7 linked regions of the Homo sapiens genome follow. The protein of the gene in region 2 interacts with the protein of the main gene of each other region in a biochemical or structural test. Each region holds a gene or a part of one and is shown on either strand. Other genes may lie near its edges. The genes, in order: HDAC5, SMAD3, PPM1A, HDAC4, LEMD3, CDK8 and KAT2B.

Evidence for each region.
Region 1: the proteins of SMAD3 (region 2) and HDAC5 form a complex in vitro, tested with the Homo sapiens proteins (one study listed by BioGRID).
Region 3: the proteins of SMAD3 (region 2) and PPM1A form a complex in vitro, tested with the Homo sapiens proteins (one study listed by IntAct).
Region 4: the proteins of SMAD3 (region 2) and HDAC4 form a complex in vitro, tested with the Homo sapiens proteins (one study listed by BioGRID).
Region 5: the proteins of SMAD3 (region 2) and LEMD3 form a complex in vitro, tested with the Homo sapiens proteins (one study listed by BioGRID).
Region 6: of the proteins of SMAD3 (region 2) and CDK8, one has a biochemical effect on the other in vitro, tested with the Homo sapiens proteins (one study listed by BioGRID).
Region 7: the proteins of SMAD3 (region 2) and KAT2B form a complex in vitro, tested with the Homo sapiens proteins (one study listed by BioGRID).

Annotation. Positions count from the first base shown.
Region 1 is NC_000017.11:44,092,261-44,096,477, reverse strand, and holds part of HDAC5 (histone deacetylase 5), read left to right. Parts: intron 1-2,643; coding exon 2,644-2,903; intron 2,904-2,992; coding exon 2,993-3,164; intron 3,165-3,271; coding exon 3,272-3,386; intron 3,387-3,671; coding exon 3,672-3,802; intron 3,803-3,950; coding exon 3,951-4,097; intron 4,098-4,193; coding exon 4,194-4,217. UniProt on the Homo sapiens protein: Responsible for the deacetylation of lysine residues on the N-terminal part of the core histones (H2A, H2B, H3 and H4).
Region 2 is NC_000015.10:67,068,602-67,072,101, reverse strand, and holds part of SMAD3 (mothers against decapentaplegic homolog 3), read right to left. Parts: intron 1-3,500. UniProt on the Homo sapiens protein: Receptor-regulated SMAD (R-SMAD) that is an intracellular signal transducer and transcriptional modulator activated by TGF-beta (transforming growth factor) and activin type 1 receptor kinases.
Region 3 is NC_000014.9:60,255,549-60,259,765, forward strand, and holds part of PPM1A (protein phosphatase 1A), read left to right. Parts: intron 1-1,275; exon of another isoform or gene 1,276-1,318; intron 1,319-3,415; exon of another isoform or gene 3,416-4,217. UniProt on the Homo sapiens protein: Enzyme with a broad specificity. Negatively regulates TGF-beta signaling through dephosphorylating SMAD2 and SMAD3, resulting in their dissociation from SMAD4, nuclear export of the SMADs and termination of the TGF-beta-mediated signaling.
Region 4 is NC_000002.12:239,131,586-239,135,802, reverse strand, and holds part of HDAC4 (histone deacetylase 4), read left to right. Parts: intron 1-1,159; coding exon 1,160-1,276; intron 1,277-1,359; coding exon 1,360-1,558; intron 1,559-1,564; exon of another isoform or gene 1,565-4,217. UniProt on the Homo sapiens protein: Responsible for the deacetylation of lysine residues on the N-terminal part of the core histones (H2A, H2B, H3 and H4).
Region 5 is NC_000012.12:65,214,368-65,218,584, forward strand, and holds part of LEMD3 (inner nuclear membrane protein Man1), read left to right. Parts: intron 1-1,609; coding exon 1,610-1,676; intron 1,677-4,184; coding exon 4,185-4,217.
Region 6 is NC_000013.11:26,347,787-26,352,003, forward strand, and holds part of CDK8 (cyclin-dependent kinase 8), read left to right. Parts: intron 1-1,285; coding exon 1,286-1,396; intron 1,397-4,217.
Region 7 is NC_000003.12:20,123,443-20,127,659, forward strand, and holds part of KAT2B (histone acetyltransferase KAT2B), read left to right. Parts: intron 1-2,462; coding exon 2,463-2,671; intron 2,672-3,980; coding exon 3,981-4,107; intron 4,108-4,217. UniProt on the Homo sapiens protein: Functions as a histone acetyltransferase (HAT) to promote transcriptional activation. Has significant histone acetyltransferase activity with core histones (H3 and H4), and also with nucleosome core particles.

The sequences.
Region 1 (4,217 bases), on a different chromosome or scaffold from region 2:
AACAAAAAAAAACCAAAACTTGTTTTTTGTTTTTTTTTTCCCTCTCTCGCCTCTTAATGCTGGGGGGTGGTCTGGAGAGAGGCCAGCTCATGAAGGCAGAAGATACTGGTAGCCAGAAGGATTTCGGGGTCCTTTTTTCTCAGGCCTGGGCTGGAGTGGGCCACTTTGCCACAGGAGTCTTCCCAGCCCCTCGTGACCTCCCTGGGCTGTAGCGAGGAGAGTGAGGGCTTTCTTTGGAGAAAGAAGTAGAAGAGAAACAGGAATGGGTTGGCCTGCCTCTCTCACTTCCGCCTTCCCAGGCAGTGGTATCCTGCCTTCCCCTTCCTGGCTGGAGACTTTGTGGGGCTTGGGCTGGGCTTGGGGCTCCCTGCTGGTGTGGTGTTTGCCCAGTTGTCCTGGCAACCACAGGGCAGTGGTGAGGAGTGACATGCAGTGACCTGAGAACTGTGTGTAGGTACAAAGAAGTGGAGACCTAGCCCTCCCATAAGCCCATTGGAACTTCGTGCACTCCCTGAGCCACTCGGCCCATTGTCCATGTGGGGACTGGACCCAAGGTCTTGGAACCCAGCAGGCCCTCCACTGCCTTCCCCTCCCCAGCAGCCTTCCTCTCCCCAGCCGGTTCTCCGTAAGACCAGAGTTCTGAGATCTCTGCCGAAGCTCCTGCCCTCCCCCTGCTGTTACCCTTCTTCCTGTCTGATTCCCTTTCCTTTCCTGTCTCCTCCTCCCACCTCCTCCCTGCTGCCTGCCCGCCCATCCTCTTATTCCCCCTCCCCCCAGGCACAGCTGCTGTTTGGCTCACTCTATATATAGCGGCATTTTCAGGGTAATTACAATAAAACTGTTGAAAGGAGATAATCCAGCAAAGGAAGCGAGTCTTGACTCCCAGCCCCCTCCTGTCCCTGGCTTGGTGCAGCCCTGCACCCCCTTTCCCCGAGGCCTCCTGTTCCCACCCCACCCCCATTCCCACAGCCTCTCCCTCCTGCCCAGTCTGCCCCAGATAGGGATGAGGCCCCAGAAGGGGACAGAGGGTAGAGATATCCAGAAGGTCTCCACCAGCCTCTCCTGGGGTTACCAAGGGCACTGTCAGTCCTAGAACCAACCTCTGTGCCTCAGTTTCTCTTCTAGTATGAGGCTTTGCATGGGGCACGGTGTTGAGAAATGGGAGCGGGCACAGTGGTTAAAAGCTTAGGATTTGGACTCATATTCTAGTTATTGGATCACCTAGCTGTGTCTGGTTGCTACTTAAACTTCTCTAAACCTCAGTTTCCTCATCAGTAAAATGGGGTAATAATAGCATCTAAGTCATAGGGTAACTGTGATATTTAAATGAGTCATTGTAAAATGCCCAGAGATGTTGACTATCAATGATAATATTATGTGTTGAAGGCTGGGCAGTGGCTCACGCCTATAATCCCAGCACTTTGGGAGGCTGAGGTGGGAGGATCGCTTGAGCCTAGGAGTTTAATTCAGCCTGGGCAACATAGTGAGACCCTGTCTCTACTAAAAAATTAAAAATTAGCCTGGTGCATTGGCATGCTCCTGTAATCCCTGCTACTTGGGAAGCTGAGGTGGGAGGGTTGCTTGAGGTCGAGGCTGTCATGAGCCACGATCATGCCATTGCATTCCAGCCTGGGCGACAGAGCAAGACCTTGTCTCTGATATATATATAGGTAGAGAGATAAATACACACACATATGTATGTGTGTGTGTATATATATATATACACACACATACGTACACACATATATATACACACACACACACAGATACATAAAATGCGTCGAGTAGTCACAATCTGTCAGGTACAGCTTCATGCTTATGCACATTTTCTTTATTTTTTTGAGATGGAGGCTCGCTCTGTCGCCCAGGCTGGAGTGCAGTGGTGCGATCTTGGCTCACTGCAACCTCCACCTCCAGGGTTCAAGCGATTCTCCTGCCTCAGCCTCCTGAGTAGCTGGGACTACAGGCGTGTGCCACCACGCCCAGCTAATTTTTTTTGTTTTTAGTAGAGACAGGATTTCACCATGTTAGTCAGGATGGTCTTGATCTCCTGACCTCGTGATCTACCCGCCTCAGCCTCCCAAAGTGCTGGGATTACAGGCAAGAGCCACCGCGCCCGGCCTCCCCCTTTTTGTTTTTTGTTTTTTTTTTTTCTGGAGACAGTCTTGCTCTGTCACCCAGGCTAGAGTGCAGTTGCATGATCTTGGCTCACTGCAACCTCCGCCTCCCGGGGTTCAAGAGATTCCCATGCCTCAGCCATCTGAGTGGCTGGGATTACAGGTGTGCACCATCACGCCCAAATAATTTTTGTATTTTTAGTAGTGAGGGGGTTTCATCATGTTGACCAGGCTGGTCTCAAACTCCTGGCCTCAGGTGATCTGCCTGCCTCAGCCTCCCAAACTAACCTGAGATTACAGGTGTGAGCCACCGTGCTCAGCCTGTATTTTCCTATTGAAGTTCATGGCTTCAGCCTCATTTAATTAAGGTAAAATGTTGCATCCATGGAGCAGAGGGATTTGACTTCCTCTCTGTCTCTGTTCTCTTTGGGTCTCCTAGAATCCTGCGTGGTAGCCTTTGGGCCTCAGGCATGACTGGAGTCTGGGGCTGGGCCCACTAACTCCTTCCTGTCTCTTCTGCCCACAGTGGAGGTGAAGCCGGTGCTGCCAAGAGCCATGCCCAGTTCCATGGGGGGTGGGGGTGGAGGCAGCCCCAGCCCTGTGGAGCTACGGGGGGCTCTGGTGGGCTCTGTGGACCCCACACTGCGGGAGCAGCAACTGCAGCAGGAGCTCCTGGCGCTCAAGCAGCAGCAGCAGCTGCAGAAGCAGCTCCTGTTCGCTGAGTTCCAGAAACAGCATGACCACCTGACAAGGCAGCATGAGGTCCAGCTGCAGAAGCACCTCAAGGTGAGCGAGGGGGGTGCGGGGGGCCGCCCAGACCTCCGATCCCCGCCCGGGCCTGGCTCACTTGTGCCTCCGTTCCCATGCCCCTGCAGCAGCAGCAGGAGATGCTGGCAGCCAAGCAGCAGCAGGAGATGCTGGCAGCCAAGCGGCAGCAGGAGCTGGAGCAGCAGCGGCAGCGGGAGCAGCAGCGGCAGGAAGAGCTGGAGAAGCAGCGGCTGGAGCAGCAGCTGCTCATCCTGCGGAACAAGGAGAAGAGCAAAGAGAGTAAGGCAGGGCCTCCTGGGACCTCGTAGGGCCCCGCCCGTGATGCCTGCCCCTGCCATGGGGGGTCTGGCCCCAAGCAGCCAGGTCAGTTGTGCCCTGTCCTGCAGGTGCCATTGCCAGCACTGAGGTAAAGCTGAGGCTCCAGGAATTCCTCTTGTCGAAGTCAAAGGAGCCCACACCAGGCGGCCTCAACCATTCCCTCCCACAGCACCCCAAATGCTGGTAATGGCCCTGGGCAGGCATGGGTGGGCATAGGTGAGCCGCTCAGGGGCTGCCTGGCTATAGGATGGCAAGGGGCTTCTTCCCCGTGCCCATATACGGGCCCTGCAATCTCTCCTTAGAGACAGGACCCCCATCCCTGGTTTATTTCCTCATTCCTTCCCCAAGATCCACGTCCTCTTCCTATATACAAACGATTTTTCATAAATGTAGATTGCCAGGTGGCAGGTCCAGCAGACTGGGTGATAACCTAGATCTGCTTCCATCCCCACCCCCCCCCCACCCCAGGGGAGCCCACCATGCTTCTTTGGACCAGAGTTCCCCTCCCCAGAGCGGCCCCCCTGGGACGCCTCCCTCCTACAAACTGCCTTTGCCTGGGCCCTACGACAGTCGAGACGACTTCCCCCTCCGCAAAACAGGTGAGTGAGTCCCCCACCTGGCCTCCCAGAATATGGCTCCTGGGAGGCAGAGGTGGGCTTGTGGCAGTGTCAGCCCTGACCCCAGTGGGCTCAGCTGCAGATGTGTGCTGCTGTGCGCGTATCTGAACCTCGGTTACCTTCTCTCCAGCCTCTGAACCCAACTTGAAAGTGCGTTCAAGGCTAAAACAGAAGGTGGCTGAGCGGAGAAGCAGTCCCCTCCTGCGTCGCAAGGATGGGACTGTTATTAGCACCTTTAAGAAGAGAGCTGTTGAGATCACAGGTGCCGGGCCTGGGGGTAAGGGCTGCTCTCATGTACCTGTTCTGAGGGTCTGGGAATCAGGGGTCGGGGGTAGTTCACAGCAGGCCCAGGTGACAGCCACTTCTCCTATAGCGTCGTCCGTGTGTAACAGCGCAC
Region 2 (3,500 bases):
ACAAATTCTTTCAATTTCATCAACTTCTTGCATTTCTCATCAGAATTAAATGCGACTGTATTCATATTTTTCTGTTATTAAAATTGTCATTTAAAACTTCACCCTTGCAAAGACTTTTTAAAAAATATACCACTAAAAGCACCTATGTTCATTCAGAAACTCAGGCGTCTAGGATTTATTCTCAGCAAGTGTTAACTAGAGAAATGAGAAGCTAGGTCACACCGAAGCTTTGAATTTCAAAACAACCATCTGCAAGTTGTCCACTTTTCATTTATTTATTTATTTATTTTGAGACAGAGTCTCGCTCTGTCGCCCAGGCTGGAGTGCAGTGGCGCGATCTCGGCTCACTGCAAGCTCCGCCTCCTGGGTTCACGCCATTCTCTTGCCTCAGCCTCCCGAGTAGCTGGGACTACAGGCGCCTGCCACCAAGCTCGGCTAATTTTTTTGTATTTTTAGTAGAGACAGGGTTTCACCGTGTTAGCCAGAATGGTTGTGATCTCCTGACCTCGTGATCCGCCTGCCTCGGCCTCCCAAAGTGCTTGGGATTACAGGTGTGAGCCACCGTGCCCAGCCAAGTTGTCCACTTTTTATTAACACTCCCTGTCATATTCTGAGCTGATACATCTAAAGTCCCTGTTCCCACCAAGGAAACCTGAATTTCAGTTTGCAGTACTAACTTACTTTTTACTTCAAAGAGAAAATGCTTTACAGTGGAGTAAAATATAGCACCCAAGTCACTAGCTGTTCAGTGCCAGTTACAAGGTAACATATTTATAGCAGCACTCAGTTTAGTAAAAGAGGATAAAGACGTCCTCATTCTTATAGGGAACTATCCCCATGTACCAAAAAGTTCCCAACATCATACTGCAGTCCAAAAAGCTTCCTTTGGATAACCCTTGTCCCCTTCTTAGTTTTCCACCTCTCATGGGTTCTCCTCCTCTCTACACCTCCTCCCACAGAATTAACTGTGTTTCCACATTGCTGGGCACTTAGCACATTCCTCAGCTGCAGCTCATGCCTCATACCTTTGGGCAAGTCTGTCTCCCGCTCTAGACAGGGAGCTCTTTGAGTACAGGGACCCTGCTGTGGTCATTGTAGTATGTTCTCAACGAAGGACTGAATAATTCAATAATGAATGAATGATGCAGAATGAAGTATAAACGTAACATACCTGTCAAATTCTCTGGTTCACAAAACACTTCCACAGAACTTATCTCATCCTGACTTGACAGGTGCAGATATAAAAGCTGTGAAACTTAAATGGATTCCCAAATCCTTGCAGGTGGTAAAATGGCAGGTACAGGACCTGAATTTTGTGTTTTTTTCAGAAAAAAACAGATGCCTGTCATTATTTTATTTCCTAACATAGTGAATTCTACAATATTTAAAAGGCACATCAACGCCCGCCCCCATCAAAAATCATCCATACTAGATCTCATATTTCTACTGGTAGCTGGGAATGAGAAAGAGATAGCAGTTAGATACTCAAATAATGCCCTATTCATGTTTCCCTTACTGATGTGTAAGCTTCTCACAGGCTGGGAGCTTCTCAAACGTGTCTCTGCATCCTCCTCTGGTACCTAAAAAATTGACTCAGACATGGGAGGGTCCAATAAATATCAATAAATCAACAAAATCCAGCCCTGTAACAACAGAGGGGCTGTCTGCAAACATTCCACTCCCAGGTGCAAGCAGCATGTTCCAAGGTTCTAAATGTTCCCAGGGAACGTCAAGTGGCGCCTAGGTTCAGCTGCAGCTGAGTCAGATCCCTCATCAGCTACCTATTGTCCTGCAGGCACCTCCTCTTCTCAGGCCCTACGTGGAACTCCCCTAATCAAACTTAACAAGAGCAAAGAGATAATGGACCACCTCCCTAGCAGCTGGAAGGGGGCTTGCTTCCAATGGGCCACACGGGCATGGTGCTCTGAAGTGCAGCCAAGAGAAAAGGGAGGCCTCTACAGCCTTAGTAATAGGTCTATCCCCAGAAATCTGGAAAAGGCATGTTAAAGACTAGGATCTTTTTCCTTTCTCAAAGTGAGAGTACCCTGGCAAAAGTCAAGGAGATAATAAGAGGAGGCTACAGTAAAAGATCAGATTCGGTGAGGCGCGGTGGCTCACGCCTGTAATCCCAGCACTTTGGCAGGCCAAGGCGGGCAGATCACAAGGTCAGGAGTTCAACACCAGCCTGACCAACATGGTGAAACCCCGTCTCTACTAAAAATACAAAAATTAGCTGGGCGTGGTGGCGGGCGCCTGTAATCCCAGCTACTCGGGAGGCTGAGGCACAAGAATCGCTTGAACCGGGAGGCAGAGGTTGCAGTGAGCTAAGATCATGCCACTGCGCTCCAGCCTGGGCAACAAGGCAAGACTCTGTCTCCAAAAAAAAAACATCAGATTCACAGGGAGGGAGTAGATGCTGTGTGTCAGACCTAGTGTTTGCTTCAATTCTCCAATTTTCCACTGGACTGGGTGCTCTGACACAAGAAAGCCCAAATTCCCTTCCAAACAAGCAATGCTTTAAGCTTGGTCTAGCTCCCAACAACGAGGCCAAGGCATGGATTCCCTGGTGGAAGTACAAGCTACCAGTGTCTACCAGAAAACTAAGTTTTAAGTGTGCCGAGCTCCTTATTCCTCATATAACGCTCACACACCAACTCTCATTCAGCGGCAAATGCTTTGATTCCATTCTTATAAACTGGCAAGGAAGATACCTGCAGCTTTACTCAGGTACTCAAGCAGGTGAGGCATGAGAGGCTGTTATAAAACTTGTGTAAATTCTGCCAATCCTGCCAGACCTCAGAGTATCCTGACAGCCCCTTTGTTGGTGTATCTAAATGAAGCTCTTACCACTTCCTTGGCACCAATCTCTTTCACCTTCTTTATGTCGATAAGTGTGTATCACGCCAGCTCCCCTGATAATTGAAACAAGTCAGAGCTGGTGTCACAGAGAAGCAAGCCTGTGGTCTGGAAGTCCCTAGTATACAGCTCTAATTGCCAAATGTTGCTGTTGCTGCTCATGATTATATATTAGCCAAAACACACTTGGCTTAATCTCCTTAGACTGAGGGCTCCTTAAACCCCGGAGTCCAGATCTTGCAGAGTGTTTTTAAGCACCCAGTGACCAACCCCCCACACACAGGGGGAATGACTAAGTTAAACATTTTCCTTTCTCTACTTTCCAAACTAAAAGGCAGTTGTGGTGAAAGCAGACAATTTGACAAGCAACACTGCAATCTATGGGGCTTAGCAGACACATTGATATCACCAGCACAGGGCCAAACCAGCCACCTCCCCAAGACGTGGCCTTTAGTTTTCTGCCCACGACCAAAACAGCAGCAGCTGTTGCCAAGGGACACAAGGTGACCCAGAGGCGTGGGCACAAAATCCAAGGATGAAAATCCATTTTGTCTGGATCCACCCAAGCAACTGGGTTTCCCTAACTGAAAAAAAAGATGAAAAAAAAAATCTACTTTTGTATTCAGTCCTATCCAGGCAGGCAG
Region 3 (4,217 bases), on a different chromosome or scaffold from region 2:
TTACTTTACACAAAGGCTAGCGGCTAGCACAGTGCTTTATGGATAGTAGACATTCAGATATTTGGTAAGTATTAAGCAAAATCTACCTGGAGTGAAAGTGATTGTTGTAGGAGGAGGTAGTAGAAGTAGTTACAAGCTTTATCGTAGCAGACGTTTCTGACTCTCTTCCTGAATGTTATTTTTTCTGAACCTGGATATTTAAGTGTGAAGATTATACAAATCTGAAGTGTGGCAGTGTTCTTATATTGATGTAGAAGACTAGGTTGACTGATCCTGGACCTACAAGCTTCATTTTAACTTCCTACATTTTGGCTTTGAGGGTTAACAGGACATTTATAATCACATATCTCTTTTCAGAGTATTTTACATTTGCAAATATTATCATGAACTTTGTGTCCTTTTAACCAGAGAGGAATTGTGGAATCACAGGAATTAGATGATGTGTTAAAGAAGAGAGATAACTATCAGCTGATTTAATTTGAACCCAACAAGTATCTAATAATATGCATACTCTGTGTTCAAATAAACCTCTAAGCTAGACTTTCAAGCTTATCAAAATGCTAGACTATTTTCAGTGTTTAGAAAATACCAGCCAGGTGTGGTGGCTTATGCCTGTAATCCCAGCACTTTGGGAGGCTGAGGCAGGTGAATCACAAGGTCAGGAGATGGAGACCATCCTGGCCAACATGGTGAAACTTTGTCTCTACTAAAATACAAAAAATTAGCCAGGCGTGGTGGCACGGGCATGGTGGCCACCCGCCTGTAGTCCCAGCTACCCAGGAGGCTGAGCAGGGGAATTGCTTGAACCCGGGAGGCACAGGTTGCAGTGAGCCAAGATTGCATCACTGCATTCTAGCCTGGCAACAGAGCAAGACATCGTCTAAAAAAAAAGAAGAAGAAAAAAGAAAATACATAGTAAAATTTATTGGCTTTTTAAATGGATAATTTCATATAGTCAGTCAGTGCCGGCTTAGATCCATTTGTTAGAGAACAATGCTAATGAGACCTCTTGATACTTTGTGTTCCTCTTATGTTTTCCTAGCCTTGACGTTAGCAACTAACAATGATAACTAACATTATTGAGCTCTTATGTGCCAGGGACTATTACAATAGATTTTCAATTATTATCTCATTAAATCTTCATAGCAGCCCTATGAGCTAGATACTGTTACTACCTATATCTTAACAGATGAGGAAATTTGAAACAGAGCAGTTATTTGCCAAGAGTTTCAGAGCTATTAACAGAAGCCTAATACATGTTCTTGGACTTTGCAGAAATAATTTGTTGATCCATGCGGTTTCATTGCTACTGCGGAAAGTAAGTCTCTTGGCCATTGTGATGGGTCAAAATCTTTGTACATGAAGGGTATGACTGTTGTTCCATTGTATCCAGAGAGTGAATCTTGTGATTGAGTTGGGATTTGAGGTGGCAGTGTATACTAAGTTTGAAAAGTATATTATCATATGTTAGCTCCCTTTAGAAATTTTCCCCAAGAAGAGCTATTACATTTTTTAATATTAAAAAAGCATAAGATATGGCCATAATACAATTAGTTCCACAAGCCATACACACTTTTTTCTTATGGCTTAAAATTTTATTCATGTTTACTACTTTGCAACCCACTGATATAAATTATTTCACAGATCCTTTATTCAAATGAAATTCTCAGTGAGTCTGAGAAGATAGTCTTAAACACAAGCTAGCTGAGTTTACAATAGAGATTATACTATAAATGGTAACTTCAATGTTTATTGAAAATAAATTCCTTAAAAACAGGTCTTGTTTCATTCATTTAAAGAGATTATCAATATATGACTGTTAAATTTTTATAGTCTCCCTGTTCATTTTCTGATGAACACATGACAGAAAATTGAATGTGAGCTGGAAATACAGCAGACTATGAGAAAGCATGGGTCATGTATAATCACTTTAAATTTAGGCTGGTGTTTTGTATTCATCTATAATATGACCACCTCAGGGAGGGATGTAAGTAAACATTCTTTTTTTAGTTATACTTTAGGTGGCTTAATTATTTTAAAGAATATGTTATTCAAGAATTGTCTATTGTACTGTTTTAAAGAATAAGAATATAATTCATTACCAACTTTGAATGTCTTGGATTCTTAGTACTACCTTTTTCTTTATCATGACTAGTAGGATCACATCATAATTTGGTACTGTGTGTATAAAGATGAAGTGTGCTTACCTTTATTACCAAAATTCAGAAATGAAAATGTGAATGATAAAAGATAAGGGATGGCTATATATTTTTTTGTTTTTGTTTTTCCAAACAGAATCTCATAACTTACCAGGCTTTAGAAAAACATCTTTGCAGTATGCCATCATACCTCAGAATGTTAAGTAGATAGGAAATAAAATTTTCACTTTTTGTAAAGCAGTAGGGTATTATCCTTTCTGACAGCCTGTAAGACTGTTTTGGTTGCCAAGGGGCCAATCTTAGAAGTGGCAGTTTTTGTTTTGTGACCAACCCACAGCTTACCCTTTGTTAGTCCATATCTGTCATCTTCATTTTCTCTTTCTGCGTAAATGCTTCTTGATACAGTAAGCAGGTGTTTCAACTAGTCAGCCATCTAGTGTGATCTTTTCTGGTTTGCTACAGTCAGTAAAATAAGTAGCTCTATAAGTGTAAATAGTATTACTTGTTTTATGTAGTAAAACTCCAAGATTAAGTTAGAGATATTTTTGGCTAGACTACATTGAATGCATTGACAATGGATTTCCCAGCTCCCAGAAATTCGTTTGTGTCTGAATTACTTTATACTTGGCTTATTGTGTAGAGAAAACTTTAGAAAAAGTTCATCCATCCATGAATGTTGAATGAATGAGCAGATTAATAAATAAATAGCTCAGGGAAAGAAAATGTGTGGGCTTTTAGTCATAACTATGTTTTTTCTCTTTTGTTCCCTTCCTTATGTGCCATTTTTCAATAATGGGAGTGTGTATCTAATGATGTTGATAAACTTTTTAAAGTCATTGATGAACAGTAATCTGAAAATCAAGTTTTGATTAAGCCGTAGATTTCTTTTAGGGTCCAATATTTTCTTTTTAGAAATCCACTATGATATTTTTGTAGGGATAAAAGACAACCATGTATTCTATAGATGGAAAATGGTAGGATACAGTTTGTTGGCCGGCCAACTTCTCTGAAAATACTTTTTCCTGCATAGAAGATAATCAGTGTTGACAAGGGAGAAGCCAAGGTATAATGGCTGTTATTCATCTGTCTCATGTATTCGTCAAGTGTCATGTGTTAAATATGAACAAAAAAGACATAATCTCTTTCCTCCTGGATCTTAAAATCTAAAGTGAGAGATAATTCACCAGATAAATGCTGCGATAAGGGAAATAGAGGATTCTATGAGCTTATGACTAAGGATAGATCTGTTTCCTCAGATGTGGAACTAAGAAGTGGCAGTAGTTGAGAAGTTCATTTTGGGCCATGCGATTTGAGGTGTGGCTATTCAAGTATAGGAGGTAGGTGGTTACACATTTTTTAAGCTATTAAATAGAACTTTCACTTGAAAAGGTTTTTTTCTCTCTTTCCTCAGCATCTATCTCCCTACATACACAAAAAAATTGCATGTCACAATTCATGAACTCAGTGAGTGACTCTATTTTGAAAAATGTTAGATTATATCAACTGAAGTCTGTTAGAGGCAAATGCTTTTGGTCATTTTTTTCAGCAGGGACATTTCATATGTGTAAAATATTTAGAATCCCCATGTATTTATATATAAATGAATCTTTTACCATCTTAAATGTTTAATAAGTTATATTTTTCCTTTCTTTCAACTTAAGTATACAAGGTTATCAGCAAACATTTGTAGATGCTCTATGTGAGGTGTTTTGTTTATTAGTTTTAAGGAAGAGAAAAAAGGATGGATTGGATCAGGAAGTCAGTTATTGTTTTCTGGGTTAGTTTGAGTCCAAATCCTCAAATATGCGGCGATTTATAAGTAGCAAACTAGGAATTTAATCCACTTCAGTTTTGGATAACTTGGATAAGACACTTTCTGTCTATAGATCTGTCTATAGATAACTTGGATAAGACAAGTTATCCAAAACTGATAAATCTGAATTAGTTAACAGATGAGGCAAATTGAGATTGTAAATGCTAAAAGATTATTAGAAAACTTTATAAACTAAATAGTTCTATGCCATGTCTTTTTAGTATTTTGCTTGTACTATAATTGTA
Region 4 (4,217 bases), on a different chromosome or scaffold from region 2:
GCATCCCGGTGTGCAATGCCCCTCCGTTCTGTTAACACCAAGGTGTCGGGGAAGCCGCATAGCTCTGCCATGCCTGCTGGGTGCTCGGCCCTGCAGCGGAGGCTTCATGGGCATCAGGCCATCTCCTTATTTCTTAACGTTACATCCCAAGAGTGGAGCTCCAGCATCAAAGGTTAGACAGATTTTGAAGGCCTTTGACATAGATTGCCAAATTGTCCTGCAGAAAGGGTGCCACTAACTGATTTGTGATTCACCCAACAGTGTTCGCCGTTCCTCTAGGCCAAGATGGTATTACCATGTTTCAAAAGTGTTTGCCAATTTGTTGGGTTTCAGAATACCTTTTTTGATGACCATGATGTGTTTTCCTGAGCGCCTTCCCCTTCCTGAGCTCTGCCGTCACTGGTCCTCACCGCGTGCTTTTCTCACTGTTAGTTGTTTGATTTGCAAGCTCTCTGTGCTGACCCTCGTCTGCCTCATACATGGCCAGTATTGTCATCATTGCCCACCTTTCGTAGAGGCAGTTGTTTTATGATTTTCTCTTTATTTTTAATTTTTGTGGGTACATAATGTATATATTTGTGGGGTACATGAGATGTTTTGATACAGGCATGCAATTTGTAATAATCACGTCATGCGAAGTGTGGGATGTCCATCCTCTCCGGTGCTTATCCTTTGTGTAACAAACAATCCAATCATACCCTTATAGTTATTTTTAAATGTACAGTTAAATGTTATTTCCTTTTTGTTTTCTGCCTTTGATGTTATGTCTGGAAAGACATTGCCAACTACAAAAAAGCATTGTAAACTATATTATCCTAGAAACTGCAAAACGGCATTGTAAACTATATTAGCCTAGATTTCCTTCTAACTGTTCTGTGGTAAATAATCAAACTGAATAGAAATCAACGAGATGATGCTGGACAAGGTGACAGAAGAAGAACTCGTATCGGGAGGAGGAAACTGGAGTGGTGAATTGTGCTTTCATGTTGTGGCACGTGTTGAAATCTCATGCTCTCATTGCTGTCTCATTTGTTACATGTACGTTTACGCTCATATATCAGAATTCAGTGCAGGTGTTTTCATCGTTGTTTTTCTTGGTGTATATTGCTGATGTTTGGCCGTGACAGACTGTGATGGTCATCGTGTGTTCTGTCCCCAGACGAGTTTGGCGCACAGACTTGTGGCACGAGAAGGCTCGGCCGCTCCACTTCCCCTCTACACATCGCCATCCTTGCCCAACATCACGCTGGGCCTGCCTGCCACCGGCCCCTCTGCGGTAAGTCAGCCCCCGTGGGTCCGTGTGGTGTGGGGTGGTGGTGATGGGTCCTTCCACCCGAGCATCCTGGCTGTGCTTTCCAGGGCACGGCGGGCCAGCAGGACGCCGAGAGACTCACCCTTCCCGCCCTCCAGCAGAGGCTCTCCCTTTTCCCCGGCACCCACCTCACTCCCTACCTGAGCACCTCGCCCTTGGAGCGGGACGGAGGGGCAGCGCACAGCCCTCTTCTGCAGCACATGGTCTTACTGGAGCAGCCGCCGGCACAAGCACCCCTCGTCACAGGTGAGCACAAATGGGCCTGGGTGCAGCCAGGCTCTGAGGCTGCCCACGCTCTGGATGGTGCCCCGCCTTCGCCTGCCTTTGGAGGAGACAGGAATGCACGCCTGTCCCACCCCCACAGTTCCCAAACACACATCCCCATCACGTGATGTAGCCACCGTGACTGCAGTGAAAATCCATGCCTCACTCCCAGAGTCAGGTAGATGGAGTGGAAACAGAAGTCACTTCCCCTTTCTCACCTTTTGGGAGAGGCCACCGGCTCTTGCGATTTGGGTTTCTGTCTGGACCAAGCTGAGCCAGCGCTGGAAGCCCAGAACCGACTCTTGTGGTCAGTTTGTGTTAGCGAACTTTTACAAATGTGCACTGTCTGGGGGAGTGGTTACATTTAGAAAAATACAATTTAGAGGAAAATGGGAACGTCCTTATGAAATTACATAGCAACAGCAATGTGAAAGTGTCACTTCAGAAATGAGGGCACACCGGCCGGACACGGTGACTGACACCTGTAATCCCAGCAGTTTGGGAGGCCGAGGCAGGCGGATCACGTGAGGTCAGGAGTTCAAGACCAGCCTGACTAACATGGTGAAACCCCGTCTCTACTAAAAATACAAAAATTAGCTGGGCGTGGTGGCGCACACCTGTAATCCCAGCTACTTGGGAGGCTGAGGCAGGAGAATTGCTTGAAATTGGAAGGCAGAGGTTATAGTGACCCGAGATGGTGGCACTGCACTCCAGCCTGGGCAACAGAGCGAGACTCCGTCTCAAAAATAAATAAATGAGGGAGCAGCTACCTACCCCCTTGCCGTGCGGGTCATCGTTGTACATCTTCATAGCTTTGTGTTTGGCTTCCTGGAAACCTGTTGTTGCCAATTGAAAGCTGAAATACCCTCAGAGCTGCACCTGTGAAACTCTGGCAGTGAACTTGGTGAAAACTCAGGGGCTTGGCGTGTTGTAGGAGGCTGCGCTGCAGGATGCGTGGGGCTAGGGGCTGGCTTGGGTGGGCTTGGGCCTCTGGCTTGACTAGTCTGGTGGATTTTGGTGTTTTCTTGTTTTGTGCTGCCCATGTGTCTCTGTTTAGACAGAGAGGATTCCTTCTTATTCCTTCTTTGCCCAGAAGCCAAATGGCGCAATCTTTGTTTTGTGCCTGAGCCCCTTTCTGTTTGTTTCTCCAGAAGCTTGAATTCGTGTCCCTGCCTGTCCAGAGCAGAGGAGCCCGTGGTGTAACGAGGGAGGGGGCAGCCCTCACAGTGCCTCTCTGAGCTGCGGCCACAGTGGCAGGCACGCGGATCTCTCTGGAGGAATGTATCTGAGGTTGCGTCTGAGTCTCTTGGATGCTCTAGATCAGCTGGCACGAGTGTGGGTAGTGAAGGACACCTGAGTTTCTCGCCTGTCTTTAAAAACGTAAAATGTGCCTGATCTTCAGGATTCCTGGGATTCACTTCGTCAGAGATGTTTGTCACTTATCTTCTTTCCTTCTCTAAATCAGTTTATTCTGCACGATTAAATAGCATGCGTAATCTTGTGTATCAGGTTTTTGGAAAACAGCCTTTTTGATAGAACCTGGATATCGAGTGTGCATGGGTCTCACCTCTCTGAGAAACGCACTGAACTCGGCGTTGCTTCTTCCCTGTGTGCGCTCATCCCTCTTTTCCTCCCAGGTGCAGCTTGCTCGTTGGCATGGGGACCTGCCCACCGTGCCCTGCCCAGGCTCTGTGCCACCAGGGGGCCCATGCATGGTTGCCCAGCTTGCTCTGGCCTTGCTTTACGCCTGTGCCCAGCAAGCCCCTCCAGTCCTATGCCGCCACCTCCAAAACCCTGCAAGCCCCTTCTCTCCTGCACAGCCTCCCCAGGTTGCCAGCAGCTCATCCTGCAAACCCCCTGGCAGGGAGCCTCGGAGCCAGTGTCACGTGTGCAGCGTAGTGCAGCCACACAGCCGCCTCTGTCCCAGCTTTCTCCTGCTCCATGACCCTGGGAAGCCGCTTATGCTCTGTGTGCCTTGTTTTCCCATCTAGGAAGTGGGGATACTAAGCGGTCCGCCCCCGTGAGCCTGATGAGGGTTAAGTGGGCTGTGCACTCATGTGCCCCTGCAGGTGTTGGCATCATTGTTGTAGTCATTGCCTTGTTCTTAACCTGCCACCTCCCATGCTCTCTCACTCCCCCAGCCAGCCCCTGTCCGTCCTCAGTGTCTCAGGGGCCCTCCCCCAGCCCCGCCATGAGCAGGGCCCTCATTTGGAACCCGCTGGGATTGCCCCATCTTCTTGTGGGAAGAAGCCTCCTGTGCAGGTTCCTCCCCTCCGGTCTGTCCTCCTGTATCCACCGGACTCTCCTTGAAGGCCTGGAGGCCCCCACGCTGTCTAGAGCAGTACTGGCCAGGTCAGGAGCCACCAGCCACGGGGAGCTGTTAAATAAATAAGTCAGAATTAGAATTCAGTTTCTCAGTCACATGTGCACCACATCCAGTGCACGGCCCACGGCTGTCCCCTGAATGTTCTCATTGTCACAGAAGGTCCTGGCAGGGCGGCACTGGCCTGGAGTGAAGTCCCAGCTTGTGAGCAGGAACTCCAGCCTTCCTCTAGAAGCCTCGTTTCTCTTCCCTAGTCCGGTACAGCAGCCAGGCCAGCCGGCTCAATGCTGGACCAGACCGCAGCCAGCCCCCAGAGCC
Region 5 (4,217 bases), on a different chromosome or scaffold from region 2:
TCAGAATCTGATTAAGATAAAATTGAGGCAAAAATATATATATATACGTAGGAAGGCAAGTAGTAAACTGAATGAATAAGTAACTTATCTCAGTCAACCGTCTGACATAAAACCAGGTATTCTGGTGGTAGGATCTTGGCACTTTTGATGAGTTTTCCTCTTAGTATAACCGATTAAAGCTGCAATGACAAAAGCATGCCACCCATAGTGTGCAAACATGTTCTCTTCTGTCCCTGCACATACACCACAAAATAAATGGATGAGGTTGCATGTTATTAGACATATAAATGTTACTTTTCCAGTCTTTTATATCTTGCTTCAATTTGCTCCATGATCTGTTCATCCAGTAAATCTGTTTTGTTGGAAACTTCAGGAAGAAAGAAAGTAATAAAGACAGAGCCCCCTGATAAATCATGGACTTATTTTAGGTAGTGCAATAAGCTATTACCCCCTCCCCACCCTACCCTCCATCATTTATGTCGATCCCTCCTGATCGTAATTGCTCTTAAATTGGAGGTCTTGTTGCTTTAGACTACTTGGCAGGTACTTAGGCTGTACCATTGCAATAATTCTCTATCTGGACTCTTTTCATACAATTATTTCTGCTTCCGAGCCAGCCTATACATTGTACATTCTGGCCCGGGTAGTATTCCTGATGCACAAGTCTGTTTTACTCTCCTGCTAAATTTTCAGAATGAAGTCAAACTCTCTGTCTTGCTATCCAAGGCTGTCTGGTAGTTAATACTAAACAACTTTTCTAGTAGTTTGCAGAATCAAACAAGGGCTACTGGTTATGTAAGAAATATAACCAATGCTTTCATGCCTTCATGCCCTTGCTCAGGGTCTTTCCCATTGCCTAGGATGCTGATCTGTTAGTTTTTCCTTTTAAATCAAACTCAAATATTCTGTTCCATAAATTCTGTTCCCTCCTTCCCTCCTTCTATATTTACAGAAGAAGGAGGGAAGAGAATCTTCTGTATTACTCTGCAGTTGTATAACATTTAATATGTTTTTTGCCCTTGAGTACAGGAACCATCTTGTTCACTGGGTCTCTCGCTTTGCTGAGAGAACAGTTCTTAACTCCTAGTAGATGTTTATTTAATGTTTGTTTCATTTTAACAGTTCATAAGTTTATACAGGGGCACCTTGGGAGCCTAGGAGAGGACTGAGTATCAGTCAACGTGCCAGTACTCATTCCCTTAGTTTTATGTGGTTGAGTTAGATTAAAACAAGACATGAAGGGCAGCCTTGATGAAGAAAACAGTCTCATATGAACAGTTTACATAAGAATACACTGTGCAGAGGGGGATTGGGAACATTGCTTTGGTGATTGATGGAGTTTATTGTCTGTGAGACCTTTTTTTTAGCACTAACCTTATGCCAATTTTTAAATCGTTCTCCAGAAAGTGAAATATTTAGAGTAATAATTTAGAGTCTTAGATTAAGGTTTCTTAAAAATATGGTGCCCATTACTTAAATGTGAATTTGTCTTTCAGATTATGTGGCTTCTGTGATTTTAAATTTACTGTTTTTTTTTTTTTGATTAAGAATTATTTGGTGTTTTTTTTCTTGTAATTGGGTATTTCATAATAACTTCTCTTAATTTTAGGAAAGTGAAAAAACTCTTATGATGAACACATTATATAAGCTTCATGATCGATTGGCACAGCTTGCAGGTAATTGTTTTAACTTTTATAGTTGCTAAAAATGTTTTGAAAAATGTATGTAGCATGTTATTAGTAGAAAATATTTTTCCAAGTCCAGTGTTATATTTGTGAAATATTTTTCTTTAGAAGTTTTCATTACCTATACAGAGTGATTTTTGATTTTTACATATGTATTTAATGAAGGCTTTTTTCCTGCCTGCCATCTGTATTAGAGGTAATATATATATATAATATAGTTATAAAGTTGATCAAATTTCTTTATTGCATCAGTGGTAACAAAAAATCTGGAAAGCTTAAGTATCAGAGGAATTAGGTAAGCAGTGAATTAACTAAAATCTTGGATTAAATATACAAATGCAGATTTTCTTTTGTTGGTTGTATAGGTATCATTCTGTTTGATAAAGTAAATTTATTCTCCTGTAATTTTCTCTCCGGATTAATTGCATTTTCCTCATAGTCTGCTCTTAGTAATTCTTTGAGAGCTCTAAGGTAGTCAACTTGTCCGAAATGGGAATAATTTATTATAGATTAATTAGTATCAAGTTTAGCACATGTAAACTGCAGTAGCAGCTTATCTATTACCTTTTTTTAGTTCTTTTTTTTTTTTAAACATATAATCTGAAAGAAGAGACTTGGATTCTTGTAAGCAGGCATAAGAAAAGAAAAATGCAGTTTTCAAACTTTTCTATGTAGCAGAACTTTTGTGTAAACCAGATTATTGGTAGCAGCCTATAGGTAAATATGGAACTTCTCTGGTTGAATGGAGGTATTTAGGATCCTGACAGTTTCCCATCCTCTGATCTCTCTTTGTTTTGTACATTGGGTTCTTAATTCTGGTCAATTTTTTAAGCTTTTAATTCTGTATTATATCGCTAAAAGCCTTCTTTGCTTTGATTGTCATTCACACACTTCAAGCTAATGACATTTATTTGGTATGCTGTAGCACCCAGAGATAGGTTAAGTATATGCTAGTTATGCTAGCTAGGGATATTGCTAACACAAGCTTCTACAGCTATCTCTGTAGCATTGTTTTATCAAGTATGGTTCATGGCCAGCTAAATCAGCATAATCTGATGTGCTTTTAAAGATACAGATTCCTTCCCCTTGAGTAAGGGTCAACAAGCTTTTTTTCTGTGAAGGGTCAGATAGTGGATATTTTAGGCTTTGTAGGTTAGTTTGCCTCTGTCACAACCACTCAGTTATGTTATACCATGAAAGCAGCCATAAATACTACATAAGTGAATGAGCTTGGCTGTATTCCAGTAAAACTTCATTTATAAAAACCAGAGTAGGCCAGATTTGACCCATGGGCTGTAATTTGCAGACCTCTGCTCTAAATCTATGGGATCTAAATCTCTGAGGATGCACTAATAAACTTTCAAGACTTGTTCATCTGATAGGTACTTCTCCCCTTTTTATAGCTACTGACATTAAAATGATTACTTGAACAAAACTGAAATGAGAACATGGCTGCTTTTATTTTAGAAACATTTGGCAAGGATTTTACTTTAATTATTCTACTTTCATGTTAACAAGCTTTTTAACTACTTGAAAGACACAGGGAAGGGAAAACATGACAATTGGAGTTCAATATGAGGATAATTTATTTCTAATAACCACTTATAGTCTAAAGAAAAAGCCCTGAATTCGCTTCTTATCAACAATTAAAAGAAAAGATAAATGTAGTTTTCCAAAGATTTATATGAGCACATCCCTTTGTAGAAACCAGATCATAGGTGGAAACTTGTACCTGATTTCCCTGTTGGTCTGTTATAACAATTTTTGTTTTTTAAGATTTTTTTGAGACAGGATCTTTTCTGTCACTCAGGCTGGAGTGAAGTAGGGTGATCACAGCTCACTGCAGCTTCAAATTTATGGAGTCAAGCTGTCTTCTCGCCTCTGCTTCCCGAATAATTGGGACAACAGATGCATACTACCACACCTGGTTATGTTATAACAGTTTTTAAGGCATGCACACCCCTTGCTAAAGATAGGATTAGTTATACTCTGAAAATGCACATACTTTAATTCATTAATAAATTCAAACTTATTTGAACCCTTAAATGATTAGCTTTAAGAATAGATGTGTAAGTTAAGTTAGCACAATGAATATGCTGAATTTTTTCCCTTTTAGGAATAATACATATTTCTGGAGGGCGTCTTGTGTGCCAAGATCTGTGGATAGGCATCAGTGTGACATAGTTCCTATACCAGCTTACAGTTTAGTTGGGAATATAAGAGGAAGATAAGTTCTTGTTTGGACTGAAATGCATTTAAAAGTTGTGGTTAATGTAATGGTAGTTGTTTGTTTATATTCTTACTGGAATTTCTTTGTTTATATTCTTACTGGAATTTCTTCTAGAAATTATAAATAATATTGTTCATGTTCTTTCTTTACTGATTATAATAATATAACCTGTAATTGTATAATGTATAAAATATTTGAATTAATTATGTTTGTTTTCTTCTGTTTAAGAGAGTACTGATTCAAAATTAATAATATGCTAATCTTTCCAGGAGATCATGAATGTGGCAGTTCTAGTCAAAGAA
Region 6 (4,217 bases), on a different chromosome or scaffold from region 2:
AGAAATAACCAGTGTTGGTGAGGATATGAAGAAATTGGAACCTTCATACATTGCAGATGGGAATGTAAAATGGTACAGCTGCAAGTTTGGTGGTTTCTCAGAAAGTTAAACACAGAGCAATCATTTGATCCAGGATTTCCACTTTTAGGTTTATGCTCAAAGCATTGAAAGCAGGGACTTTCATCAGATAGTGTATACCACTGTTCATAGCAGCATTAATCACAATAACCAGAGGTGAAAACAATCCATGAACATCAACAGATGAATGGATAAACAAAATGTGATATCTATATATATATCTATATAGATATATATATAGATATGCATAGAGTGGAGTATATTTATCCATAAAGAATGAAATAGGCTAAGTGAAATAAGCCTGGCATGAAAGGATACATATTGTATGGTTCCACTTACATGAAATATCTAGATTAGGAAGATTCTTAGGGACAGATAGTAGAGTAGAGGTTACCAGAGCCTTGGGGAAAAAGGCGGTGGGATTATTGTGTAACGCAGGGGTCCCTGCGTCAGCACCGGTACGTTAGGAATTGGGCCGTACAGCAGGAGGTGAGCCACAGGCAAGCGAGCATTACCACCTGAGCTCTGCCTCCTGTCAGATTAGCAGTGGCATTAGATTCTCATAGGAGCTTGAACACTATTGTGAACTGCGCATGTGAAGGATCTAGGTTGCATGCTCCTTATGAGAATCTAATGCCTAATGAATGATCTGAGGTGAAACGGTTTCATCTTGAAACCATCCACCATCTGCCCCTTCCCCCAGCCCCCGCCCTGCACCTCCACCCCATTATCCGTGGAAAATTTGTCTTCCTCAAAAATGGTTTCTGATGCCAAAAAGGTTGGGAACCGCTGGTTTAATGGATTCAGAGTTTCTGTTTGGGATGACAAAAAAAATTCTAAAATGGATAGTGGTGGTGATCGCAGAACATTGTGAATATACTTATAGGATGCCACTGAATTGTACACTTAAAAATGATTAAAATGGTCTTTTTATGTTAGATATATTTTACCACAATCAAAAAATTAAAATAACCAACCAAACAACAACAAAATAGATTTACTCAGATAATACCTGTTCAGTGTCTTTTCCTCACAGATATCTTCTCATTTGTTACTGAAGTATCCGTCTCAGAATTGTGTGGGTGCTTATTAGATGTTTAAGATTGTTTACCTGTGGGTTTGTATTGCCTTTGAATTACAAATGGTGTGGGGTTTTTTACATTATTTTTGTGACAGAAATAGTTAATGCATCTCCTTTGTTTTGCAGTTACTTCGAGAGCTTAAGCATCCAAACGTCATTTCTCTTCAAAAGGTGTTTCTGTCTCATGCTGATAGGAAGGTGTGGCTTCTGTTTGACTATGCTGAACATGACCTCTGGGTAAGGTGAATTGCTGGCAGACATGAGCAAACAGTCAGGGATTGTTAAGAGTAACTAAAAACAGTTAGGTGTTCTGCTTATTATGAGACTTATGTTTTTAAAATAAAAGTAACCTCATAGAGTGTGGTTGGTGGCATGACGAAGGCTAGAGTATTTGACTTTGTATTATTACTTTTCAATATTGTCACTTTGATCTTTTAACAGATACTAAAGAAAACAATAGAATCTAAAGAGTGTTCAACAACTATTCAATATTGCTTCATATAGTTTTTTGATAAAATAAAAAGTAACTAATATATATAAAATTTTGCTCTAAAATAGAAAAGTAGCATATTTCCTTTTATTTCGTTGTATAAAGGGAACATAAAATGAGAAGGTGGTATCCTCATGTAGGAGGACGAATATGCTATCTTTGGAGAGATCTAATAGTTCTACCATTATTTGTCGTATAGCATTAAGCAAGTCTTTTAATGGCTTTGAAGCTGTAGTTTACCCCATCTGTAAAATGTAATACTTTCTTGCCTTTTTTAACAACGTTTTTCTGAGGAACAATCTTGTATTTGAAAAGTTTTATAAATATACAAATGTAGGAAACTGTTATTAATTATTAACTATTCACAATTGAATTTAATATCCTAATTCTTATTTTCAGTGGCAGTAGTTCAATACAGTATAGTCATGCGCCATATAATGTTATTGTCAACTAGGGACTGCATATATGATAGTGGTCTCCTAAGATTATAGTACCATATTGTTACTGTACCTTTTCTATGTTTACATATGTTTAGATAACACACTTATTTACTATTGTGTCACAATTGCCTTCCTTATTCAGTACAGTAACATGTACAGGTTTGTAGCCTAGGAGCAGGAGGCTATAACATATAGCCTAGGTTTGTAGTAGAGTCTATCATCTAGGTTTGTGTAAGTACAGTCTGTGATGTTTACACAACTGCAAAATTGCCTAACGACACATTTTTCAGAATGTATCCCTTCATTAAGTGATGCATGACTGTATTGTACTTACTTGAATTGGGCATAATCTTGCATTGGAGGAATTTTTTGTGGATGAGAGCTCTATTACAAAATAAGATTCGTGTGAAAATAAATTTTAATATCTCTTGGGACTTTTAGTTCTTTGTTTTCTGACCTATGATAAGAATAGTTTTAGGCCAAGTGTAGTGGGTCACACCTGTAGTCCCAACACTTTGGGAGGCCAAGACAGGAAGATCACTTGAGCCAAAGTGTTTGAGACAAGCCTGGGTCACATGGCAAGACCCTGTCTCTGCAAAAAATAAAAAAAATTAGCTGGGCTCAGTGGCACATGCTGTGGTCCCAGCTGTTCATGGGGCTGAAGCTCAGGAAGTCGAGGCTGCAGTGGGTCCTGTTTGCACTGTTGCACTCCAGCCCGGCTAATTTTTGTATTTTTAGTAGAGACAGGGTTTCACCATGTTGGCCAGGCTGGTCTCTTAACTCCTGATGTCAGGTGATCTGCCCACCTCGGCCTCCCAAAGTGCTGAGATTACAGGCCTGAGCCACTGAGCCCAGCCAGTTTATTAGTTTATCTAATGCATTGCAGAAAATGATGCTATATTGAAAAAAATTACTGTAAAATAAGAACTTAATTTTATCTTGTCTGAGTAGCTGAAATACAAACACCAGCCTCAGTATTTTGCAGTTTACTAAGCAGATTATTTTTTAAATTGGTATTTGAGGAACTCTAAGGTAACTATAAAATTTGCTCTTTTATTAAATATAACATTTATATATTTTTTAAAAATCTGAAACGTTACCTTGCAGATAAAACTTTGAGATATATATATAGAAAATCTATAATAGGATAGCCAAAGTAATTTTGAAACATAGTAACAAAATTGACATTCTTATCAATCTGTATAGAGAACATCTGTTAATACAGATTATAGTTTAAGAAACAAGTAAACTAAACATCTAACATTACCTTGTGTTAATTCATTAAGAATTACTATACTCCTGTGAACTGCTTTTTAAATGATATTTAATAATGTCTTTAAACATTGTATTGATTTGCATACTAATCTATATTTACTAAATTAGCATGGCTATGCTTTTTATTATGTATACATGAAATTTTCTCTCTTTTATGAAACTCTTTCCAAAGTTCATGCTGGTTATTAATTTCTTCTTTTTTTTTAAATCTTTGGTTCTTCTGTTCTTCTATTTTAAAAGAAATCTAATCAGATCAACCCTGTTAAATCAGCGTGGCCAGTATTAAATTGAACACTCACTATGCTGAGCCTCATAAGAAATAAAGTCATATAATTTAAACTTAAGGCATTTTCCAGGCTGGTTTATAAACAAGATTTGTGATAAACCACAGTAGAGCATAGAAGATAGTATAATATTTCACTCAATGTGATTTCTAGCTGCTAGTTTGTAATATTTAATTTTACATGTAGGTACAATGATTATACTTCAGCAAATTTTATTGTGGGTAATATTGTACAGTGCATATAACTAGTTCATTAGCTTTATCATCATCTTAATAATATTTAAGCCAAATAAATATTTTTAATGTTCATTTTCATAAAAAACAAATGATAATTTAGCCTACTAAAACCCACTCCTTTATCTATTTTAATTGGAATGTTGAAGTGAATTGGTAGGGGTTAGGCAGCAGAGGGTAACAAGGCAGTCGCAATAAAAATAGTTATTTTTAAAAATCACTTAGGCGTTGGTGAGATTTCATGGTATGTATATTTTGCATTTGTTATGTAGCCCTGGAATATAAAGAAAATGACAGTAGGATTTGTCATTTTAAAACATTGGTAAAAAAAGTCAC
Region 7 (4,217 bases), on a different chromosome or scaffold from region 2:
GTTTTATTGAAACATATTGTTTGCAGCTGTCTTTGCATTACAACAGTAAATTTGAATAATTGAGACAGGGAATGTGTGGCTTGCAAAGTATGAAATATTTATTATCTGGCTTTTCACTGAAAAGTTTGCTGACCTCTGGCCTAATATAAAACCGTATTTAAATTTCCCATATAGCCAGATGATGTCAGTTATAACCTTTGTTGTTGTTGAAGGATCAGTTAGGGATTGTGCATTGCATTTAATTCTTATCTCTTCATTTGTTTAGTCTCCTTTAAAACAACTCCCCAGCCTTGTTTTGGTCTTTTGCAGCACTGCCATTGGTGAAGAGTCTTGGTCGCTAGTTTTGTATAAGGTCCCTCTTTTTGGATTTGTTGATTGTTTACTAAGGATTAGATTCAAGTAAGGCATTTTTGGTAAAAATGCTGCTGTCATCTCATTGCCTTGCATCTGAGGGCATGCAAGGCAATGACATTTCTTAAGACATACCTGTCTTAAGACATTTCTGACAGCTTCCAGGAAATGAAGAAATGGCTTGGAGATTATATTACAGTGTTAATTTTCAATTTGTCATGTTTCTTTAAATATTTATTTTATGACATTGAGGATACTTCAGAGAACCAGAATGTTGTAATAGAAAAATCTCTTCCTAAAATTGATCTTTCCATTTCCTCCTAGATGTCCAGTCTGTGAGGGCTTAAGACTATAGTTTTTTAGGGATTTAGTAACATTACAGATTAGCTGAGTTTAGGTTTTTTTCAGCTATAAAATGGGGATTTGTACTAGTCTATTGCATTGCTACAAAGAAATACCTGAGACTGGGTAATTTATTTTTTTAAAAAAGAGCTTTAATTGGCTCACAGTTCCACAGACTGTACAAGAATGGCATCAGCATCTGCTCAGCTTCTGGGGAGGCCTCAGGGAACTTATACTCATGGTGCAGGGTGAAGTGGGAGCAGGCACATCACATGGTGAGAGAGGGAACAAGAGAGTGAGGAGGAGGAGCCAGACCCCTTTAAACCACCAAATCTCATATGAACTAACTGAGCAATAACTCATTCATCAACAAGGGGATGGTGCTAGGCCATTCATGAGGGGTCTGCCCTGATGATCCAACACTTCCCACTAGGCCCCACCTCCAACATTGGAGATTGCATTTCAGCATGAGATTTGGAGGGGTCACACATTCAAACTACATCAGGATGCAGTCACATGTTTGAAAATATTTTGGATATATTAATATTTAGTAGTGTACTAGAGCTGGCTTGTACTGGAATGCACAAGAAAATTGTTAAATTTTCAGGAGTTTTGTGAGCTGGTTGTTCCATATGTTGGTAGCTTGAAGTTGACTAGCATGGCACCTGGTTACCTGGATAGCCAGTTCTGGACTAATGAGATGAAGTGTCACCAGTTAGGGCCTTCCTTCCTTGAAGAGCTGTTTGTGGAGCATCTACTTGCAAACCACTAGGCAGATTAAATAAGATGGGGAGCATAAGTGCTGGCACATGGTTGTGCTTCCAGCTATGGTTGAGTGTAGGTCAACAGATATTCTCTGGAAAGAAAACTGTTCTTTAAAAAGAGGTGTTAAGAATATATACATGAGGCCGGGCGCGGTGGCTCAGCCTGTAATCCCAGCACTTTGGGAGGCCGAGGCGGGCAGATCACGAGGTCAGGAGATCGAGACCATCTTGGCTAACACGGTGAAACCCCGTCTCTACTAAAAAATACAAAAAATTAGCTGGGCGCCGTGGCAGGCTCCAGAGGCTGAGGCAGGAGAATGGCATGAACCCGGGAGGCGGAGCTTGCAGTGAGCTGAGATAGCGCCACTGCAGTCTGGCCTGGGCGAAAGAGCGAGACTCCGTCTCAGAAAAAAAAAAAAAAAAAAAGAATATATACATGAGTGCTACTATTGGGCCTGTAATGAGAATTTGAATCTGTCATCTCAAGGGTCCTTAAAGCTCAGCTGGAGAGGATTCCTTGAAGCCAGAGGTTGGCAAACTATAACCCACAGGCCACATTTTGTCTGCTTACTGTATTTTTAAATAAAGTTTTATTGGAACAGTACTGCACCCATTCTTTAACATATTGTCTGTGGATGCTTTTGCATTATAGCAGAAGAAGGAGTAGTTGTGACAAACACCTTATGGCTCACAACGTCTAAAATATTTTCTATCTGGCCCTTCACAGAAAACTTTGCTGGCCCCTAATCTACACTGAATATCATCCGTGTACACATATAATACTCCAATTTCTCAAAATGCTTTACCTGCCTTTTCTGTCTTGTCTTCATAACTTGTATGTGTATGTGTCTCTGTGTGTATGTGTGCACACATGTGTATTTAGGACTCTGAAAATCCACAAATGTGTATCTTATTAGAACAAAGATGAGAAGCTTGGATGTGTCCCATCCCCACTGTCTTGAGAGAATAGCTCTGTGTAATTTTTTCCTGTCTCTTGCATCTCAGACCAATTTTCTGTCAGCACACTCGGCCAGGGATGAGGCGGCAAGGTTGGAAGAGCGCAGGGGTGTAATTGAATTTCACGTGGTTGGCAATTCCCTCAACCAGAAACCAAACAAGAAGATCCTGATGTGGCTGGTTGGCCTACAGAACGTTTTCTCCCACCAGCTGCCCCGAATGCCAAAAGAATACATCACACGGCTCGTCTTTGACCCGTAAGTGGTACTTTCTGTTCCTTCTTCCTTATTTCCTTTTTAAATGAAAGAGGAACTGCTTAGATAGTGAAAGTCAGCCATAGTCATCCACCGAATACTACTGCACCTGTCTTGCTGTGGATACAGAGCTTCACCAAGCTGATTTTCATGTCTGAAAGTGCTAAGAGTAATTTTCAACAATTTACAAATTTTCTTGTTAATGATGATGAAACTTTATATTTTACATTGCTGATGACTCTCCTGTGCTTCATTCTTTATAGCAGTGAGAGAATGTAACACTAAGATGTTCTGCTTTCTTCATAATCAAAATATTGGTTTTGGTATCTTAACTAGGTGCCATTATTGCCCAGGTCTGTGGGCAATTATTGGGATATAAGACAGGTTAACTTTGAAAATCCATTGCTTAAAAAAAAAAAACAAAAAACTAGGCCGGGCATGGTGGCTCATGCCTGTAATCCCAGCATTTTGGGAGGCTGAGGTGGGAGGATCACCTGAGGTTGAGAGTTTGTGACCAGCCTGACCAACATGGAGAAACCCCGTCTCTACTAAAAATACAAAATTAGCCAGGCCTGGTGACACATGCCTGTAATCACGGCTACTTGGGAGGCTGAGGCAGGAGAATTGCTTGAACCCAGGAGGCGGAGGTTGTGGTGAGCCGAGACCGTGCCATTGCACTCCAGCCTGGGCAACAGAGCGAAACTCCATTTCAAAAAAAAAAAAAAAAAAACCCACGAAACCCTAAAGAACTAAACTTCTCTAATTGAATTTATTTTAACATACATAGCCCAGTAGCCTATGGGGACTGTGATCCATGCCTGTGACAATTCAGAGTGATGCTTTAGACAGAGGGAAGGATTCCATAATGCGGAATTTTGCAAATTGTATATGTAAATTTTAAATTCTTTTTCATAATGTTTCTGTAATATTTTGGAGTAAGACTTAACTCTTCAGAGACACATACCATGTTTGTCCATGACTTCCTGCTCTCCCTGACCCCTCCTTGGCACTGGCTGTGCCAGTTCCAGAGCACCTCTGCACATACTCTGTTCTCTATTTGTAAACCTCAGGCACTTCTTAGGTGACTGGTATTTTGTTCTGATGGGAGTGCTGATGACATCTTGTGCAGGCGACCTAGCTCTAAAAAGTTCAGATAAAAGGATGGTCTAGCGAGATAGGGGCTACATGAAGGAAGTTTCTATAGAAACTTAGGACATGTCCCTCTTTCTTAGTTGGTTAATAAGGAACACCCCAAAAAGTATATTTATATAACTAGGATAGGTAAAACTTTGACATAATCTTATTCTTTCAGGAAACACAAAACCCTTGCTTTAATTAAAGATGGCCGTGTTATTGGTGGTATCTGTTTCCGTATGTTCCCATCTCAAGGATTCACAGAGATTGTCTTCTGTGCTGTAACCTCAAATGAGCAAGTCAAGGTAAGGGTAAACCCAAGGTCTTAGAAGAAGAGCAGAATGTGGGGCTTCTCACTAAGGCCTGCAGAGCTTGGGAAGATCTCTCTGTGCCATGTCCAGAGAAGGTTCAAAGT